2 linked regions of the Homo sapiens genome follow. The protein of the gene in region 1 interacts with the protein of each later gene in a biochemical or structural test. Each region holds a gene or a part of one and is shown on either strand. Other genes may lie near its edges.

What was found.
Region 2: the proteins of RFC4 (region 1) and RFC1 form a complex in vitro, tested with the Homo sapiens proteins (one study listed by BioGRID).

What each region holds. Positions count from the first base shown.
Region 1 is NC_000003.12:186,796,426-186,803,942, forward strand, and holds part of RFC4 (replication factor C subunit 4), read right to left. Parts: intron 4,771-7,517; coding exon 4,692-4,770; intron 1,190-4,691; coding exon 1,110-1,189; intron 1-1,109. UniProt on the Homo sapiens protein: Subunit of the replication factor C (RFC) complex which acts during elongation of primed DNA templates by DNA polymerases delta and epsilon, and is necessary for ATP-dependent loading of proliferating cell nuclear antigen (PCNA) onto primed DNA.
Region 2 is NC_000004.12:39,363,008-39,371,046, forward strand, and holds the start of RFC1 (replication factor C subunit 1), read right to left. Parts: upstream 3,356-8,039; 5' UTR 3,235-3,355; coding exon 3,232-3,234; intron 1-3,231. UniProt on the Homo sapiens protein: Subunit of the replication factor C (RFC) complex which acts during elongation of primed DNA templates by DNA polymerases delta and epsilon, and is necessary for ATP-dependent loading of proliferating cell nuclear antigen (PCNA) onto primed DNA.

The DNA.
Region 1 (7,517 bases):
TTGTCTTTTACATTTTGACATAACTAATAATCCTTACACATTTGGTGATTTCAGTGGCGTCTTTTTTTTTTTGAGACGGAGTCTCGCTCTGTCACCCAGGCTGGAGTGCAGTGGCGTGATCTCGGCTCACTGCAACCTCTGCCTCCCAGGTTCAAGTGATTCTCCTGCCTCAGCCTGCCGAGTAGCTGGGACTACAGGTGCATGCCACCATGCCTGGCAAATTTTTGTATTTTTAGTAGAGATGGGGTTTCACCATGTTGGCCAGGCTGGTTTCGAACTCCTCACCCCAGGTGATCCACCTGCCTCGGCCTCCCAAAGTGCTGGGATTACAGATGTGAGCCACCACACCCAGCCTATTTTCATATGTAGGATTTCAGATATTTCTATCAGTTGTATGTCTGATATTAATTCTGGATAAACTCAAAACAGCCTTTGTTATGTTGGTGCATGTTTCATGTATATCAGACCCAGCCCACTACACATCTTTTAACTCTAGGTAAAGGGCTCCTCTAGAATGGCTGGTTAAGCCAAGATGGTCAATCTAGGAAGAGGAACATAAGAAGGTGACTCACAGGAAGATTTTCTGGTGTACCTGGAATCACACTACATCAACCATCACTTGTGCTCAGGAGACCTGAGGCAAGGAGCTGGACTGGCCACTCCAGAGTCAGAGCCTAGGAAGTCCAGAGCAGGACTCAAGAATGGATGGTGCAAATAGTGCCATCAGAAACAGCAGATTCTATCATGTAGCCACACAGATGTGAACACAATCATTAAGAGGGTGATAAAACTATCAGCACAACTGGACATTAAGTTGGGCCCTCTGGACTCCAAAGTTATAATGGAAAATTTAAAGAAAGTGATGGAAAAAATCATAGGCTCCCCACACTTGAACAAGATTCACAATGAAGGTCACAAAAGACGCAGGCAAGCTGATTTCTTCAGGGGAGTGAGGGAGGAACAAAATGGCTCATGGGATTTTTAAAAATCAGAAATAGAAAACTATCCTACAGAAAACGAAACGCAAATTTTTAGAGGAAAAAAAGCAATATCAGAGAATTTTGGTGTCAAATCTTTAAAAAAAGAAAAACAGACTGATTTCAACGTACCCAAAGAGTTCTCTAGCTGCTGCCAAAATAGTGGATGTTTTTCCAGTTCCAGGTGGTCCGTAAAACAAGAGATTAGGAAGCTGTAGAAATTAAATTTTATTTTTAATAAATGGTATTCTGGCACAAATAGATGAAAAGGAAGATCGAAAAAAATGTCTGTGGAATAGTGCAATGACTTCTCTAATAGGGCACGTAATTTCTAAGTATAAAGTTTTCTTAATATAACTGATATCATAGTACTGACAGATTTAAATCCTGCTTTTTCATATACTACCACTTTTTTCCCCAAGTGTCTTTTTAATCTCTTAAGCTGAACCAATATTTATGCTTGCTCTATAGCTAATCCACTTAGGTGAAATTTTCAAAGCTGGAATGAGAAACCTTTTATTTCTAAAGGGAATCTCAGTTTCCTATCCCACCTCTATGCTCAAGATTAGGTAAGATTTTATATTACACAAAATGTCAGCTGCTTCAAAGGGGAAGCAGACCAAAAGAGTAATGGGATTTGGCCAAAACTGAGGAAAAAGGACTAAAAAAGACATAATTAGGGCTTTGGATGAGCAGAAGTACCAAGAACAGAAATATTAACAAAAAATCCAAAACTAGATATATATTAAGTACTAGGCACTGCTCCACATCATGATTATGCACTCTGTAAGGATGCTTGCATGTATCAGGGAGAATTCATTAGAAGAGGAAAGGATAAAATTAAATCACTAGCTACCTTCTTTTATACCTTGTATCTAGCTAGTTTGGCTCCTATCAAGCAGTCGACTGATCCGTGGTGAAAATTAATAAGTCAACTAAATTCTAATGAGCTCTGTTATGATACTGTGCAATCTTCAGTATGTCCTGTCACATAAGGAAATCAGTGTACACAGGAAACTAGGCATTAGAGTTTGTTTCCACTCTTGCCTAACCCTCCCTCTTCCTGTCCATTCATTCTTCACCTAAATCAGATACCACTCTGCTTGCTACTTAAAACTATTCCACTTAGAAAAACAAAAACAAACCAAAAAACCCTCAGCTTTTTACCATGGCCTAAAGGACTTCCATGATCTGCCTACCACCTCCTTCACCTTCCAGGCTCTAGCTTACAATGGCTTCTAACAGCTTGGCACTTTCTGGCCCGAACATATGTTGCTCCCATGACCTGGAGTCTGATCCTCTTCTTTCTGCCTGGCCAACTCCTAATGCATTACAAATCAGAAACCATTCAGTCTAAAGTAGGTCTCCTCTCCTATTCTCTCATTAGTGTTTGTTGCATTTTGCATTGGTTTATTGTTATTTCACTGTGGGGCTTAATTGTAAAATGCCTGTCTACTTCATTAAAAGACCAAGAACCTTATTTGTTCTATTCACATCTGTATTCTAGCATCTACTACAGTAGTCAATGTTGGCCAAATGAATGAATAAACCAATACATAGACAAATATGTTAATTAGAAGACTATTACTGTTACATTCATAACATATAGCTTACAGAACAAACTATGAGATTCATAACTTAAAAACCTCCCAGGCTTCTTAGTAATTAAGGTCTACAACTATTATTTTGATCTGTGCATCCCTTAACAATGTAACGATTCATCCAGGTTAACTATCAGATACAATAATTTAAATTCTTTGAAACAGGGTAAAATTATTAAACCTTAATTATACACTAGTCTAATATATGTAGTACATTCAAGAACTGTATGTGGAATACCAGTTCTTAAAATCAATTTCTGAAAAAATTATCTTCTTATAATTCTTTAAAACCTTTCAAAATAAATTGAATGAATTGTTTTCCTTTACTCTTTTGAATTAAAAAAACTATTTCACCTCTTTACAAAACTTAGTCTGAAAAGGTGCACAAAATATTAAACTGAAGTTCTTACTTCAGCCTCATAAATTACGTGGCATAAAGTCAAGAACTAGATCTTAGGCTGGGCATGATGGCTCATGCCTGTAATCCCAGCATTTTAGGTGGCCAAAGCGGGCAGGTCACTTGACATGGCTAAACACCATCTCTACTAAAAATACAAAAATGAGCTGTGTGTGGTGGTGCATGCCTGTAGTCCCAGCTACTTGGGAGGCTGAGGTGGGAGGATCACTTGAGCCTGGGAGGCGGAGGTTGCAGTGAGCTGGTATCACGCCACTGCACTCCAGCCTGCGTGACAGAGCAAGACTCTGTCTCAATTACAAAAAAAAACAAAAAAACAAAAGAACTGGATCTTAATCTCACTACATTTGCTGAAGATACTAGTAATTAAATTAGATATTGTCCTGCAATCTGTGTAATTACTATGCAACTGCAATTAAAATGGTATATACTGTTACCAAGATATGCAAGCAGAATATACCAAAAAATAAAATGCTATACTATTATAAAATTAAAAGGTATAAGAGTATTTGTGTTATTTATTTTTTATTACTTATTTATTTATTTATTTTTGAGACCAGAGTCTCACTCTGTCACCCAGGCTGGAGTACAGTGGCACAATCTTGGCTCACTGCAACCCCTCCGCCTCCCAGGTTCAAATGATTCTCCCGCTTTAGCCTCCTGAGTAGCTGGGACTACAGGTGTGTGCCACCACGCCTGGCTACTTTTTCTAATTTTTGGTAGAGATGGGGTTTCACCATGTTGGCCAGGCTGGTCTTGAACTCCTGACCTCAAGTGATCTTCCCATCTCAGCCTCCCGAAACGCTAGGATTACAGGCGTGAGCCACTGTGGCCGGCCAAAAAGGTATAAGAGTATGCGAGTCAAATCAAAACACATACTGGTAAAGAAAAAGATTCTAAATAGTTTTATAAATTTAACTTCTTTCAAAATGTGTACTGTAGTAATATAATTTCAGCAAGGGAATGATGGCAGCAAAACCCAAAAGAACTTCTAATTAAAAGCAGCCAGATTGAGAGGAAGGAAGCAAATCTTGAAACTAAAGCAAAAACCACATCCCACTTCAGCACTTTACTGAGCTGTTAAAGCACTTTGGGCATTCATCATAACACAACTTTAAGTTGCTAATTTTTCACATGGGTTTATCTTATCTCAGAATAATTTACAATGCAAGTTATCCATGGATACTTTATCCCCCAGATCACAGCAGAAGAGAGAGCTATAAGCAGAATTCAAAGCTCGATTTTTTTTTTGTATTATAGGTCAATCCAAATCCTAAAGTTAGTAAGCAATTATACTTTAGAGGAATCTCTGGCTCTTCTTTATAGCACATATTACTACCTATAATTATTTATTGGTTTACTTGTTTATTCTATCTTTCCTTACCAATAAAAACCCATGAAAAAAGGGGCATAGTTTGTCTTGTTCTATGTTTTATGTCTTGTTCTATGTCTATGTTTCATAGTTTGTCTTAATTACTATGACTTTTACTTGAATACTAGGTAACACTGCTATGTAAGATTAAATAGGAGATGCTCAATAAATATTTGAACTAATTATCATTGTACAAATAGTTATCAAGGACCTACTGTACACAGAGCAAGATATTTAACGAGGGCTAGAAGTTATAAAGGAAGAAAGAGGGTGAATAAATTAAGTCTTAAATATCCCAATGACATTAAACACCATTTGCAACTCACATCTGCTCCTTCTAAAGATTTTTTCAGCACTGCAACCACTTCTTCCTGGAAAGCAACTTCATCCACACATTTTGGGCGACTTGCGGGGTGAGAAGGAGGAAAGAGGTTATTTAGTATATTATAGTAGCCACAGAAAACTCTCAAGTGTTCCTTCTACTAAAATACCAATGACCATTCTTAAACATCAGCAATGAAATGAGAAACTTTTTCATAATCGGAAATAGGTGGAAACCCCACTTGTTTTTACCGTAACCAAACACATTCTGAAAGAGTGAAATAATGTTTTACTTCCTTTCTGCATTGCTCGAATCTGTTATACCCACAAAAATTAAAGAAAAAGGATTTTATTTTATATGCTACAAACACTAATTAGAAATTAAAGTGGGGGATTAAGACCATCCTGGCTAACACAGTGAAACCCCGTCTCTACTAAAAACACAAAAAATTAGCCAGGCGTGGTGGTGAGCGCCTGTAGTCCCAGCTACTTGGGAGGCTGAGGCAGGAGAACGGCACGAACCTGGGAGGCAGAGCTTGCAGTGAGCTGAGATCGCACCACTGCACTCCAGCCTGGGTGACAGAGGGAGACTCTGTCTCAAAAAAAAAAAAAAAAAAAAAGAAATTAAAGTGGGGCTGGGTGCGATGGCTCACACTAATCCCAACACTTAGGGAGGCTGAAGCAGGTGGATCACCTGAGGTCAGGAGTTCAAGACCAGCCTGACCAACACGGAGAAACACTGTCTCTACTAAAAATATAAAATTAGCCGGGCATGGTGGTGCATGCCTGTAATGCCAGCTACTCGGGAGGCTGAGGAAGGAGAAGCGCTTGAACCCTGGAGGCAGAGGTTGTGGTGAGCCGAGATCGTATCATTGCACTCCAACCTGGGTCACAAGAGCGAAACTTTATCTCAAAAAAAAAAAAAAAAAAAAAATTAAAGTGAACACCTGCTTAGAAAGCATTATTATTGGCCGGATGCGGTGGCTCACGCCTGTAATCCCAGCACTTTGGGAGGCAGATCACCTGAGATCAGGAGTTTGAGACCAGCCTGGTCAACATGGTGAAACCCCGTCTGTATTAAAAATACAAAAAAAATTAGGTGGGCGTGGTGGCACATGCCTGTAGTCCCATTTGAACCCAGGAGGCAGAAGTTGCAGTGAGCCAAGATCGCACCACTGCACTTCAGCCTGGGCGACAGAGCAAGACTCTGTCTCAAAAGAAAAAAAAAAAGCATTGTTCCACTTTGACAAAATAAGATCATGAATCTTAAGATGAAAAGGGAAAACCATTTAGTAACCTTAGTATAGGTAACTATTTTGGTTAATGTAGTTACATATATACTTAGTATGTGTTAACTGGTTAATGCCAATTTTTTCCATCATCTAACTGCATAAAAAAATGAAGACCTATTCAATTCATTGAGGGCTAACAAAAACAACAAGCTGAACCAATATGAAGTATCATATATAATTTTCATCTTACAACAGTGATTTTTAAGAGAAGCTAGAACAAAGTTACACTTCCAACTCTAAGCTTAGGCTTTGTGCTTAGTTAACTAATCAAAAGTTCTTTGATCCATACTTTTCGATAAATCAGGTTAACACTAGGTAGGAATTATGATTTTTTTTTTTAATGTCTTCTCTTGGGAATCCAGTATATGTTATAAAGCAGGGACTCATATTCAAATACCTGCAGAGATTAAGCAGATAACAAGAGTGAGGAAGGCAGAGTGTGATGCAAGATATAGTAGGGACCATGGCAAATTGAGGAACACACGACCTTTCCAAAAGGAGAAGCAGTACACAAGTCCATATAACTCCTGTCATGTGAGAACCTGCCCCCAGTGTTGCCTGATCTCCTGAGAAGCTGAAAATCCAGACCCTCCTCCACATAATTAAAAAAATCTAGATTTTCATGAGGTTTATTGGTGCCAAACAAAACATATAAGGGGCTGGGCGCAGTGACTCACGCCTGTAATCCCAGCACTTTGGGAGGCCAAGGCAGGCAGATCACCTGAGATCAGGAGTTGAAGACCAGCCTGGTCAACACGATGAAACCTTGTCTCTATTAAAAATACAAAAATTAGCTGAGTGTGGTGGGGCATGTCTGTAATCCCAGCTACTCGGGAGGCTGAGGCAGGAGAATCACTTGAACCTGGGAGGCAGAGGTTGCAGTGAGCTGACATTGCGCCACTGCACTCCAGCCTGGGTGACAAAGTGAGAATCTGTCCCAAAAAAACAAACAAACAAAAAGGCAAGCAAAAAACAAAAACACAAAAAACATATGAGGGCCTTACTCGGCCTATAAGTAATCTGTAAACATTGGTAATTACCGAGGCTACATTCAACCAATAGTTACAATTACTTGTGGTAATATCACTTAGATGACTGACAATTTTATTTATTTATTTGAGACAGAGTCTCGTTCTGTCACCCAGGCTGGAATGCAGTGGTGTGATCTCAGCTCACTGCAATTTCTGCCTCCCAGGTTCAAGTGATTCTCGTGCCTCAGCCTCCCAAGTAGCTGGGATTACAGGTGCCCGCCAACATGCCTGGCTAATTTTTTTTTTTTTTTTTTCCCAGTAAAGAGGGGGTTTCGACATGTTGGCCAGGCTGGTCTGGAACTCCTGGCCTCAAGTGATCCTCCCACCTTGGCCTCCCAAATTGCTGGGATTACATACAGGATTATAGGCATGAGCCACCATGCCAGGTGGTGACTGACAATTTAAATGCTAATTCAAGTGTTGTTTGGACAAAAATGTATGAGCTAACCAAAACTGAATTTCCAGGGCTGGGCGCGGTGGCTCATGCATGTAATCCCAGCACTTTGGG
Region 2 (8,039 bases), on another chromosome or scaffold:
CCTGTAGGAGTGGAGCAATGAAACAGTTCAGACCACAATTTATTTAAACTGACCTCACGGCTCTTCAAACAGCTGTTCCTTAAGTCTCATGTGTGTTTAATTCAATCTTATGCATATTTTCAATAATTATACCAACCAATTAATTATATATGCTGACTTCTTAAAAATGGCATCTCTCAGGTTTTATTCACGTTTTGTGCAAACAATTAAATCTCAGTGAAATTCAAATTGTCTACATGGCTTCTTTATTTCTTTTATTTTTAATTTTCTTTCTATTTATTTACGTGGTTCAAATTTCGAAAGGGTAAAAAGTCCCCCTCTTATCCTGCCTCTCAGACACATATTTCCCATCTCTGGAGGCAACAAATGTTATCAGTTGGTTCCTTCTGTATCTTTCCAGAGAAATTTTATATTTTGGCAATTGTTTCATATCAGAGTATAAAGTTTTCTCATTTTTATAAAGGTTGCACAGTATTCCATTGTGTGAATACACGTACTTTATTTCTTTATTGATAACTTTTAATTGGAATTTTTGTTTTCAATGCAGCTCCCAGGGCAAGAGCTGTCTATGGATGGGCTTCAGAAGATAAGTGAATAGGCCAGGCACAGTGGTTCATGCCTGTAATCCCGGCACTTTAAGAGGCTGAGGCAGGTGGATCAACTTGAGGCCAGGAGTTCAAGACCAGCCTGGCCAACATGGTGAAACTTCATCTCTACTAAAAATAAAAAAATAAAATAGCTGGACATGGTGGCACACACCTGTATTCCCAGCTACCAGGCAGGCTGAGGCACAAGAATCGCTTAAACCTGGTAGGCAGAGGTTGCAGTGAGCCAAGACTGCACACTGCACTCCAGCCTGGGCAAAACAGCAAGACTCTCAAAAAAAAAAAAAAAAGAAGAAGAAGAAGAAGATGATAAGTGAACAGGCCAGGCACAGTGGCTCATGCCTGTAATCTCAATGCTTTGGGAGGCCAGGGTGGAAGGATCGCTTGTACCCCGGAATTAGAGATGGCAGTGAGCTATCATCACACCACTGCACTCCAGCCTGGGCAACAGAGCAAGACCTTGCCTTTAAAAAAAAAAAAAAAAAAAAAAGAAGAAGAAGATAGGTCAATCCCTTAAAATGGTGTGTATATGCCCATATGCATTTCTCTGGGCAGAAAATTTGCATATCATTCACTGTATTTATCAAAGGAAACTGTAACTGAAACAAAGATTGAGAACTACTGTCCTTCATACCCAACGACACAGTCTGAGGGAAAAAAAAAAAAAAGAACTACTGTCTTATAACTTTGCACAAGTGTTCAATAAACATTTGTTGAATCAATTTTAGTCTAGGGTTTTGCTAATTGTTGCACTAGAGACTGGAGGGCTAAATTAAATATCAGTATAATACAAAATTCTTATCTACCTCATAGGATGTTTACCCACTAACAACAAAACTGACCAATTTGACCTATTTCTTTTCTGAGAAGAGGTCTATTTTTTATCTGCACCATGAACAGGAGTACTAAAGAAAGAAAAGAACCAAAAGTAAAAGCACCTGAATGATCAAAAGTTGACCACACAAGCTATGTTCACCATAAATGACAGAGGAATCTACCATGCCTCTTAAAATCTATGTAACTTTCCATAGAGTCCTTTCTGAGAAAATAGATCACTGGTAGCTGTGTAGTTGCCTAACATGCCAGGCACCAGAACCAGAACGGAAGCTTTACCTATACATCTTGCTTAATCCCCAAAACAATCACTATGGCAGCTATTATTTTCCCCTCTTTTACAGATAAGGAAACAGAGGCTTAAAGAGATTAAACTTAAGCTATTTACTTGCCCAAGACCACGTAACTATTAAACTAGACTATACTAACATAGTAATATAACTATAAATTAATATATAAACCATTAAACTAAAATATTACCACGTTCTTCATCTTCAAGACTCCAAGTCTCAAGCTTCCAAAATACCACAGTGCTTTGGCCTCCAAAATGTAATGATGATCATTATAGGGAAGTAGTATAACATGGTGGTCAGAAACACCAAGATTCTAATTCTAGTTCAACCACCTACTAGTTATATGATACACTGTTTAAATTCCAAAAAGGTGCTTGCACCATCTGTAAAACTGCATCGATGTGGGTTGAAATGAAAAAAAAAAAAAAAAAAAAAAACCATGGAAAACCAACAGTTCACATATTGACCTAAAGAAGATGCTTGGTACAAGGTAGCTACTATCATTACTGTTGCCCTTTTTTGAGAAGAAACACAAAGGCCTGCAACGTTTCCCAGTGTGGCATAAAATTTTCACCGCCCCCCCCCAGAATGTTGTCACTGTGACACGTTGACCAATGATTGAAAAAAATTATATCGGATTGTTAAGTATCTTCTAGCTTAATGAACATTTTAAATGGTCCTTTAAAAATATTTCAAACACAGAGCCATATCCATTGCCATACCATCAGGAATGTCTGCTTTGCTGGCTGCATAATCATTTCACTTTCAATTTGTTTGAACATTTTATCCAGAATTATGCAGTGAGGCTTGGGTTTTTTTCAGATTTTAAACATCAGGTGGTAAGAGGATGACAGCTGTCAAATGTCTTGCATCTGTTTCTATTCGCTGTACTTCTTTTTCCTAGTAAGCCATGTTATCCTTTTGACTCCTATGAACTCATCTAAACAAAATAAAATATCCTCTCCATGCCCTCGGTCTCAACACCGCTCAGGTGATCGTTAATGACGAGCGGAGATGAGACGAGCTGAGCTGTTAATGATAAAAGTTTAAGGCCCTACACAACATATTCCCTAAGAAAGAAAAGTTTGTTACATTCTTCTCCCTCGTGACCCAAAGCTTGAAATCCACGCTTTAGGCAGTACTCAAACTGAGGTTCGGGCAACGCCGAACAAGAAAATAACTTTACCAATGCGTCCCAAAACCACCATCCTTCCTCTCTTCCTTTCTCCCTTCCCCCAAGAGTGGGGGGCGGGGGGAAAGTGCAAGTACACGTAGCAACAAAATCCCTGCGCGCTGGCTGCCGCCCAGAGCCAGAGCCCGCGATGCAATGAAAGTTTTGCGTCCAGTGCCCGGTGTGCGGCCCCTTCTCTGCCTTTGCTAGCCTCCGGAACCACCCACCGCCATCCTCCCCCACCCTGCATACCAGGAGTGCCCGGTCCACACCAGGCCTGCAAAGCCCCCCCAGACCCCGAGCCGCACGGCCTCCCCCAGCGGCTCACCATCGCAGCCCCAGGATGAAGGCGCTGGCTGGCTGGCGGGTGGGCCGGTTGAGGAATCTGTTATCGAGGCTCAGGATCCATTCGCGCCAACAACTTCTCCCGCGAAGTGCAAGAAGGCGAAGACAGTGGCGCGCGGTGATGACGTCAGGAGGCGCGAGCTTTGCTTCCGTCCCGCCCAGAGGCGGGAGGTGCGACGCCTGCCCAGGTGCTGCCCCGAGGGCAGGCGGGCCGCTGACATCGAGAGGAACCACGGTGCTTTGGTGTGAGCTCGGTTTTTGGCGGGGGCGCTAAAGTAGGGGGATCCGATATTGGTTTCCTTGGCAGGCGGGGTACCCAAGTACCTCCCGGTTACACGTCTGGACAATGCACTTCCCTATAGTAACTTTGAAAAGTTTTTACTACCAACTTTAGTAAGATAAATGTTTTAGCTGTGCGTTTTACATATTATGTATAAATATCTATTCTGTAATAAGGTTTCATCAAGAGGCCGGACGCGGTGGCTCACCCCTCTAATCCCAGCACTTTGGGAGGCCGAGGCGGGTGGGTCACCTGAGGTCAGGAGTTCGAGACCACCTGACCAATGTGGTGAAACCCCGTCTCTACTAAAAATACAAAAATTAGCCAGGGGGTGGTGACGTGTGCCTGTAGTCCCAGCTACTCGGGAGACTGAGACAGGAGAATTGCTTGAACCCAGGAGGCAGTGGTGCAGTGAGCCGAGATCGAGCTACTGCCCTTTAGCCTGGGCGACAGAGCGAAACTCCGCCTCAAAAAAAAGAAAAGATACCGAAAGCTTTGGGGTAAACCAGTTGTATATGAATAGATTAGCAATTGAATCACGGAATACAATGAAACATTTGCGTACGATTTCAAGAGAAAGATTAGACCATAAAGAGTTCAATGGAGAAAGCAGTATCTCCAGCTTTGGCTCTAGCTACACTTTTGAAATTCTCACCCATCCACCCCCTGTTGGGTCTTGCGCTTTATGACACCAACATTTCTATGGCGAAAGATAGAACAGCCTGGAATACAACAGAGGCTGAGCATTGACAGCTTGTATTTATTAAACGCCTATTGTTGTACGTGCAGCTCTGGACTAGCCTAGCTCATTTTATCCCCATGATGACACTGACTACTCTTATCCCGAATTTACAGACAGACTGTTACTTATTAACAGGGCCTCACTGCACTGTTCCCTCTGAAGCCAGGATGCTAGGTCTCCAGCCCCACCACCTGCTATTTATGTGACCAAGGGCAAGTTACTGTGCCTCGGTTTTGTCTTAGCAGACATATCACACAAATTTTTGCCCATAATTTTAGAGGACCTACACCAATTTATAATGTTCATTGTGTTATAAATCAATAAATGAGTAAATAAGACATAAAAAGTTGTACGTGTCTTTTATATTACATTCCTCTTAACTTTTGCTTTTTTTTTTTTTTGGCATTTGAAGCCTTCCTTGAGTTTAAATGAGACTTAAGTCAGGAGACTGTAACTTCTTTGTGAGATTGTTTTCTTTAGGAATATTTATTTACATGAAAATACTCTATCTCAGAAATATACCAGATCTAAAATGACTGCATATGCTTTGAAACTCCTCCCTTGAACCTGGACTGGCCTATGACTGATTTGATCAAAGAATACAATGGAAGTGATACTATGCCAACTCCAGACCTAAGCTTTAAGAAGACTGGCAGCTCCTGTCTTGCTCTCTTGGAGCACCATGTAAAGCCAGGGAGGTGGTCATCTGAGACCAGCCTTATAGCCATCTCCACCAGGCACCATGCATGTAAATGAAGCCATCTCAGATCCCATCCAGCAACTGATGGAATTTCACTAGCTTTGTTGACCCCATTCAACACCTGGGAGAGCAGAAAAATCACTCAGTCAAGGCCTGTCCAAATTTCCTGACCCACAGTAGCGTGAACATAATTAAATGATTGCTCTGTTAAGGTAATAAGTATTGGAGTGGTTTCTTATAAAGGAATAGATATCCAGAATGGAAATATTTTTGAAGACCCAAAATAGGACTGAGCATGGTGGCACATGCCTATAATCCCAGCACTTTGAGAGGCCTTGTCTCAGGAAAAAAAAACAAAAACAAAAAAAAAGTGAAACCAATCAGAAAAGATTTCCCTGCTGATCCATGCCTTTTTGTTAGCAGAATAATGGCATGGAAAGAAATTCACTCCTTGAAAACAGTATGGATATAAGCTTTTGCCTATCACAGCAAGTTTACATTTATGGATGCCTGCTGCATTAGCACATGCCGGCACTGTTATTCCATCCTTCCCATCCTTAATTCCTTTATGGGCTAGCTCATCAGCCATAGTTAGTATCTATCTGGGGCAAATAACACCAAAACAGTGATGTTTCAGCAATCTTGTAGACTTGGTCTAGTGTCAGATTTTCATGAGTGAAAATATTGGCAAATTCATCAACACATTTCTCCACTGCTTTGTGATCAGCAGATGCTTTATTGCCACAGATTTTTTAAAAATGTAACACCCTGTCTTTTCTTAAATTTATGCAACCAGCCAGTTGAATATGCACAATTCCCTTCAATTTTTAGTTCATTGCAATAGATCTTTGTTTCATGATCAGCATACCATCACGTGGCATGTGTTCACTATGATGCTTATGAATTTATGCTTTCAATACATGATTGAGATTTTCTTTTTTAGCTTTACGTAGTTTTTTTTGGGGGGGGGGTTGTTTTGTTTTTTGTTTTTGAGACGGAGTCTTGCTCTGTCACCCAGGCTGGAGTGCAGTGGCGCCATCTCGGCTCACTGCAACCTCCGCCTCCCAGGTTCAAGCGATTCTTCTGCCTCAGCCTCCTGAGTAGCTGAGATTACAGTTGTGCACCACCACATTTGGCTATTTTTTGTATTCTTAGTAGAGACGGGGTTTCACCATCTTGGTGAGGCTGGTCTCGAACTCCTGACCTCGTGATCTACCCATCTCGGCCTCCCAAAGTGCTGGGAGGGTTTTTTTGGTTTTGTTTTTTTACTTTTCATTAACTTCTGTTCATCACTTTCAGCATAAACCTTCAACAGTTTTTCCTTCTGTTTCTTCAAATCATATATGGTGGTCATTCCAATCCCATACTCTTTTGTAAGATTTTCACACTTATACTGCTGTCCAACTTCTCTAAGGTTGACTTTCTGTGCCACAGATAAACATAAATGCTTCCTCTTTTTCTTATCACTGTTACCCAAAGGGGTATCTGCAGGCCTTTTCGACATTTTCAGCAATATCTGTATACCACAAAGCAGAGAATAATCAAAAAACCGCAGAAGGCCAGGCACAGTGGCTCATGCCTGTAATCCCAACACTTTGGGAGGACAAGGAAGGAGTATTGCTTGAGACCAGGAGTTCGAGGCCAGGAGTTCAAGACCAGCCTGGGCGACAGAGCAAGATGCTGTCCCAAAAACAAAACAAAACAAAAACCACTGTAAACAATCTGAATGTTAACTGTAAAGAAAATGGATAAATTGAAATATATTCATACAACAATAAAAATCAATGAAATACAGATCATACATCATACAACACTACAGATCAGTCTTGTATACTTTTTTTTTTTTTTTTTTTTGAGATGGAGGCTTGCTCTGTCACCCAGGCTGGGATACATTGGCGAAATCTCAGCTCACTGCAACCTCTGCCTGCCAGGTTCAAGCAATTCTCCTGCTTCAGCCTTCCAAGTAGCTGGGATTACAGGCATCCACCACCATGCCTGGCTAATTTTTGTACTTTTAGTAAAGACAGGGTTTCATCATGTTGGTCAAGCTGGTCTCTAACTCCTGACCTCAAATGATCCACCCACCTCGGCCTCCCAAAGTGGTAGGATTACAGGTGTGAGCCACTGCACCTGGCCCAGTCTTATATACTGATATGGTTTGGCTCTGTGTCCCCACCCAAAACTCATCTTCTAGCTCCCATAATTCCCATTGTTGTGGGAGGGACCCAGTGGGATAGGAGATAATTGAATCATGATGGTGCATCTTTCCTATGCTGTTCTCATGATAGTGAATGGGTCTCATGAGATCTGATGGTTTTAAAAACGGGAGTTTCTCTGCACAAGCTCTCTCTTTGCCTGCTGCCATCCACATAAGATGTGACTTGCTCCTCCTTGCCTTACACTATGATTATGAGGCCTCCCCAGCCATGTGGAACCGTAAGTCCAATAAATGTCTTTATTTTGTAAATTGCCCAGTCTTGGGTATGTCTTTATCAGCAGCGTGAAAATGGACTAATACAGTAAATTAATACCAGCAGAGTGGGGCATTGCTAAAAAGATACTCGAAAATGTGGAAGCAACTTGGGAACTGGGTAACAGGCAGAGGTTGGAACAGTTTGGAGGGCTCAGAAGAAGATAGGAAAATGTAGGAAAATTTGGAACTTCCTAGAGACTTTTTGAATGGCTTTGACAAAAATGCTGATAGTGATATGAACAATAAGGTCCAGGCTGAGGTGGTCTCAGATGGAGATGAGGAACTTGTTGGGAACTGGAGCAAAGATGACTCTTGTTATGTTTTAGCAGAGACTTGCAGCACTTTGCCCCTGCCCTAGAGATCTGTGGAACTTTGAACTTGAGAGAGATGATTTAGGGTATATGGTGGAAGAAATTTCTAAGGAGCAAAGCATTCAAGAGTTGACTTCGGTGCTGTTAAAGGCATTCAGTTTCAAATGGGAAGCAGAGCATAAAAGTTTGGAAAATTTGCAGCCTGAAAATGCAGTGGAAAACAAAATCCTATTTTTGAGGAGAAATTCAAGCCGGCTGCAGGAATGTGCATAAGCAACCAGGAGT